Linked DNA regions of Homo sapiens: region 2 is linked to region 1. The links come from fine-mapping of genetic effects on gene expression. Tissue or cell type: subcutaneous fat. Region 1 holds a variant in brackets; the other region holds the start of a gene. All regions are shown on one strand. Distances are between the middles of the regions.

Region 1 (2,756 bases):
TTTGCCATTTTCCCTGTGAGGAGAGGGGCTTGGAGTAGCTGGGTCTGGCCAGATCACACGAAGTGGGTGTCAAACCCTGGTCAGCTGGGTCCAAGGAATTCTGTGGGGTCACATGCAACAAACTAAAAAAGACTTGGAAGTGGTCTTCGTATATGTGGATGAGTATATCTATATGGCTACACACATATATATAAATAACTTATTTTCAGATGGCTGAGCCAGAGCCAGCCCACAGCTGGAAAAAATTAAAAAATAAAAAATAAATAAACCTGACTTCAGAATTTGTGCCATAGTCTCTGGTTAAAGTCCAAAACACACTTGGTTGAAATAACAGCCTAATATTTGAGGAAAACAAGGTGAAACAGTTGTTACAATTATTAAGGAAAATTACCGAGGTATTACCAAAGACAGCAGGGTCCGTGAACTAATTCCAGGTTGAATAGGAAGCAGTTAACTCTAAGAGGCCTAAAGAAGTGTCTTCCTTCTACAGCGTTCTTGGATTTACTCTGTCACTATTCTCTGATCCCTTTGGAGGAACCACACTTCCCAAGTCTAAGAGGTCGTGCTTGGGGTCATAATAAATCATGGGTCATCATGGCCAGAAAAGTAGCCCCACAAGCAACCCAGGGATGGCCAGAATGAGCCTCCCTGCCCCGGGCCAGCCGCCTCTGCAACACGTTGGGATGAGCCAGCCAAATGGCTTGTGGAGGGTGTGGCATACACTCATCTTCCCCCAAAACAGCCCACCACCCCCTTCTTAAAGTCCCATGGAGCAGGTCCCTCCACAGAAGGCTCCTCGTTCCAGAGAGCCTCTTTGAAACGTGCCCTTTGAGTGAGCCTAGGAGCCAGGCAAGAAAGTGAAAATCAGTCCCTTTCAACTCCATGATCTCGCTTTTGCTCCAAAACGGAACGCTGCAGCTCCCGGTGACTTTTGGCTGTCTGCGCAGGTGCCAGTAGAGCAGTACGTAGAAGGGTGCTGGGTGCCATCTGGAAATAAGGTGGTGGGTGGGTGTTAAAGGTGACAGCTGCCCTCTCCCTTCTCAAGCACCATGCGTGACAGTCCAGGCCCTGTTCCAGGTGGTTCCCACACGGCGCCTTCTCGATCCTCTGACCCTTCAGAGAACTAGGAGAGCCCACCCCTGCAGGCAGCCGAAGCAATGTATCAGGGCAAATCCTGGGGAGGCCAAAAATCATTTGAGTAAGGCGAGGTCTGCCGAATAAGAGGGCCGCTTACCCAGGGTCAGCTCTGAAAGTGTCAATGAGGGACGTAAGTTCAAGTAGGTGTAGGGAAGGATTCGACTGGGACT[C/G]ATTTCACAGCCCAGCTGGGGACTGATGTCACGCCCGAGGACAGGAGGTTTGGGGCAAGGGTCAGCCTCACACTGCCAGGTTGCCCTAGGGGAGATTCCACAAGGGCGCATTCCCTCGCCACGCACATGCGCAGGCACGCACATCCGTGTGCACGCACTCACCCACAACCAGGGCTTCAGATGAGCTGATCCCCCGCTATCCCACTCCAGCACCCGCTCCTGGGACTCCAGCCCACACCAGGTGGGAGGAGGACTCCTCATCCTGACTCCACGCTGGTGGCTCTCGGCGTGCGTGGGCTGCAGGTTGTACAACCCAGACGGCTGCCTCTGCCTGTCTCTCCCGCCTTTCTACCCGCACCGACACCCAGGCGGCCCCCTGAGGCACCTCCCCTTCCTCGCCGGCTCCTGCCCAAGCTGCCCAGGCCCAGGGGCCCCCTCAGCCTCGCCCACTCCAACTGCCAGCTGTCAGCAGCCAGCGGCCACCAGGGCTAATCCCCTTCACAAAACTAACTCCAGCCTGGAGCCCCGCTTCAGCGAAACCAAGCCCTGGCAAGGCGAATGGGCTCGTTGGCTGAGTTGAGGCCCATGGGCTCTGGAACCAGCCGGCCTGAGTCAAACCTGGCTCCACCACTTCCTAGGTGCGTGAACTTGAACAAGCCAGTTGATCTCAGTTTCCTCCTCTGCAAAATGGAACTTCACCACGCGGTGCTGGCAGGAGGACTCCATGATGAGGGCACTGAGTTATAAGCATTGTAACACTTACACCAGTGCCTGGCACTCAGTGGTGCTCAGAAAAGCCTATCTTTATTATTATTGCCTTTTAGGTTTGGCACAAGTTGCTCCTGGTCCCTCTTCTCACTCCTTCCTTTCCATTCCATATCCCTGTCCTTAAGCGTTTAACTGACCGAAAACAACAAAATCTTTTTTGGCCTCTCCCATACGATAGTCCAGTCCTCTTGCTGGAGCCACTCCCACTTCGAGTGTCTCTGCCAGCTGTCCACCTCTATGAGCTCCCAGGCCCTCTGCCCAAGGCTATCCACCTGCCGCCTCCCCCTCCTCTCTTCCCACAGCTCCCCTGTAAGCCTGTGCTAAGCAGCGCGACCTGGGGGCCCTGACTCGTCACTTCTGTCAAGCTCCTAAATTCCCTTGTTTCCAGAGGTTTTGTCTATTAAGTTACTTTTTTAAATTTTTTTTTTTTTTTTTTTGAGACAGGGTCTCAGTCTGTCACCCAGGCTGGAGTGCAGTGGCACAATCTCAGTTCACAGCAGCCTCCATCTCCTGAGCTCGAATGATCCTCCCACCGCAACCTCCCAAGTAGCTGGGACTACAGGTGCGTACCACCATGCCTGGCTAATTTTTGTATTTTTATATAGACGGAGGTCTTGTCATGTTACCCAGGCTAGCCTTAAACTCCTCAGCTATGCGATTCTCACACCTCGGCCTCCCAAA
Region 2 (2,756 bases), 960 kb before region 1:
GTTCCCTCCTAGGAATCAAGGTCTCCCCTGCAGTAATTCCAGAAAATTCAACATGAATTGTCTACCTCTTACACTGGACTAATCTAGTGATGGTAGAATTGACCTGTATCTAGTTTCCCTCAATGGTCAAGGATCAAGGGCTCACAGTGGATCACAGACTGAAATGAATCCATAATGAAATTAATTCTTGAGACAAGAAAGTAAAAATACGAAAGGGAGAGAGCCCCCAAGACCTTTTTCTAAGCTCTATTGCTAAGGCCCCTTTTAGTAAGGAGCTGATATAAAATAAAACCTATCTCTGAGGCAAAATTTGGAGGGAAGTGGAGACAATGAAAGTAATGCATGTAATACCACTTGCCTGCCTAAAGAACAGATATTTACATGGATCCCCTCAATGACTTTCAAAAAACATCTTGCATAAGTGGATGGGTAGTGCAGCAAATTAGGGTAGGGTGATGCTAAGATCACAGGGAAGAGGGACATGGAAGGATAAAGACAGAAACTAAAACCTCTCAATACAAAAGGAGCTTACGCTGCAGGTGAAAGGGAGTTAGATTAGACCTAAATACTGGGTTGAATGATTTACAGAGAGTTTGCTTCCCTGAACCTCTCTTAAAAGTAAATACACATAAGGAATGGGCTAGGGAGAGAGACAGGGCATTTACTTTTAATCAGTTGCTCCATGTGATTCACCCACCCTCCTATTCCTATCACCTTTGACCAGGCCTCAGAACTTCACCTCAACAAAGTGATGGAAGTGATTGGACCATTAAACAAATGAAGTCATCTAGCTCAAATGTAAACTAAACCAGCCCTCGGTTGTGGCAGGAAATGGTGTTCTGTTCACCTAACCTGCCTCCTGAAGGGCTGGGGTCTCCAGCGGCCGCTAATCCTTAACCAAGACCCGAAAACCCACCTTCCGAGTCTCTCTCGAAGCCCATGAGCTGGTCACTGTTGCCGTCGCCTTCCTCCTCTTCCTCTTCCTCCTCAAACTCCAGATCCTGGCCTAGTAGCAAATCACTCTCCAATACCAGGGCCCCGGGTCCTTCGTCGAGGGAGTCTTCAGTATCCACTGAAGAGGGGAGGGGGCTTGTGGATTCTCCCTCAGGAACCAGCCCTCGTGGACCACACTTCCCGTACTCGCTGACCCACTCTGATTCCCTTAGTGCCTCGGTGGGAAGCTAGGAGTCTGGATCGCCCACTTCATCCCTCAGGAGTCCCCCTCCACCCTGACCTGAGCCCACTCCACTGACCCCACCCCCGCTCCTCTCCCCTCAAGGCCCCTGACCCCTGACCTTTGACCCCCTCGCATTTCACGGGCTGCGGGTGGCTTTGCTTCCTTCGGGGCATCGTGACCGGCTCCAGCCCGACGCGCCTCCGGCCTGCGGCCGCCCGACCCCGCCCCTCCTATCTCGGCCCGCCTGTCTGCCCTTCCTCTCAGGGCCCGCGGGCCGCCCCCATGCAGCGGCGCGGGCCCTGGGCAGCCCCCGGCCCTGGCCCCGGCGCCCAGCTCAGGCCGCTCCCGCCGCCGCCGCCGCTTCCATTCATGGAGCCCCCTACCCCCCTACGGAGACCAGCTGGTACCTCCGTACTCGCTTCCGCTTCCGCCGCCGCAGAGACGCACGGGACGCGTAGTCCGTGGGAAGCGGCCGCGGCGGGAGCCTCAATGGCGTGACCGGGAAGTGATTGTGACGAGGCGGGGAGCAAGCCAATCAGCGGCAGCGGGGAGCCGGCCAGGGAGCAGCGCAGGAGGCGTCCTGCCCGACTCCAGGCTTCAGGCCAGCCAGACCGGTCCCAACCTGTCCCTGGGGGAACTAGATCATTTCTGGCTGCAGGAGGGGGCGAGGGGCAGCCGCGACGCCCGCCAGGCCGGCCTACCAGCAGCTCGCTCTGGGCTCTCCTATACACGCGCAGGACACACACGAGCACACGCACACACTCACATGGGGGCTCGCCACATGCTACAGATGGGACCAAGTCGGGGGCCACGGCAGCAGAAAAAAAAGGACACGATGCGTACGATTAGGTTTTGGCCTTTAGTCTGAAAAAGTGTTGATTGAAAGTGTACAACAGAGAGCGGGTGCAAGCGGCCGAGGGCCATGGAGCCGCCAATAAAAAAGAATGTCCTTAAATAAAGTTCACAGAGTAAAAACCAGAACCGCCAGTCCTTCCCTCCAACACAACAGAGCACAGGCACAGAACCGGTGATGAGCCCGAGGAGCAGAGGCGGCTGGGAAGGACAGCAGAGGCTCCCGGCTGCAGTGTGGAGGGAGAGCCCTCTTTGGAATGGGCGGAGTGAAGCCACCCAGCTCCCCCTGCACACCTCATACCCACTGCTAAGGCTAAAGGAAAAAGACAAAACTCAGTCTCAGGTCCGGAGGGCTCAGAAAACAGTCTAGGTGGGCAGGGGTCTGGATGACTGCTAGTCTCGCTTGGCCTTCTTCTTCTTGTCGCTGTTGCCATTTTCTTCAGCCCCCTCAGTAGAGAGCACCTCCTCTAGTTTTCGCTTGCCACTCTCTGGCTGGAGCTCTGCTGTGTTTCGGGGCTTGAAGCAAATGATGATGCAGGTCATGTTGTCACACCCTGTACCATCCCCAGAAGTGTCTGGTGCCAGGCACTGATCCAGCAGCTAAGAAAGGGATGGGGGTAGCTCAGCCACAGGGTTTGAACACCTTGCCAGGAATCTACAGTCCCACAAGAGGGCTGGCTTGCTGAGTCAGGGTGGTAGGAGAGGAATGGGCAAGAGGTATCACACA

Direction of the effects. Positions count from the first base shown, and alleles are read on the strand shown. Sizes are in standard deviations (SD) of each study's normalised expression.
With allele G in place of C in region 1, the expression in subcutaneous fat of the gene that starts at base 1,558 in region 2 is lower (moderate effect, 0.43 SD a copy in GTEx).

Evidence for each region. PIP is the estimated chance that this variant, and not a neighbour inherited with it, causes the effect.
Region 2: ZNF513 starts here. The variant in region 1 is the best candidate, but not a certain one, in a credible set for the expression of ZNF513 in subcutaneous fat (GTEx, PIP 0.79).

What each region holds. Positions count from the first base shown.
Region 1 is chr2:28,343,492-28,346,247 of GRCh38, forward strand. No RefSeq gene overlaps it. Among named protein-coding and RNA genes, the nearest start is that of BABAM2-AS2, 34 kb to the left of the region's middle. The variant C/G (reference allele first, on the strand shown) is at 1,308.
Region 2 is chr2:27,379,177-27,381,932 of GRCh38, forward strand. It overlaps ZNF513 (zinc finger protein 513), which reads right to left and starts at 1,558. Exons shown (of 4, transcript NM_144631.6): 1 at 1,296-1,558; 2 at 917-1,072. The coding sequence starts at 1,350. It overlaps PPM1G (protein phosphatase, Mg2+/Mn2+ dependent 1G), which reads right to left. Exons shown (of 10, transcript NM_177983.3): 10 at 2,023-2,629. The coding sequence ends at 2,423. RefSeq lists an enhancer at 1-170 and a silencer at 1,311-1,530.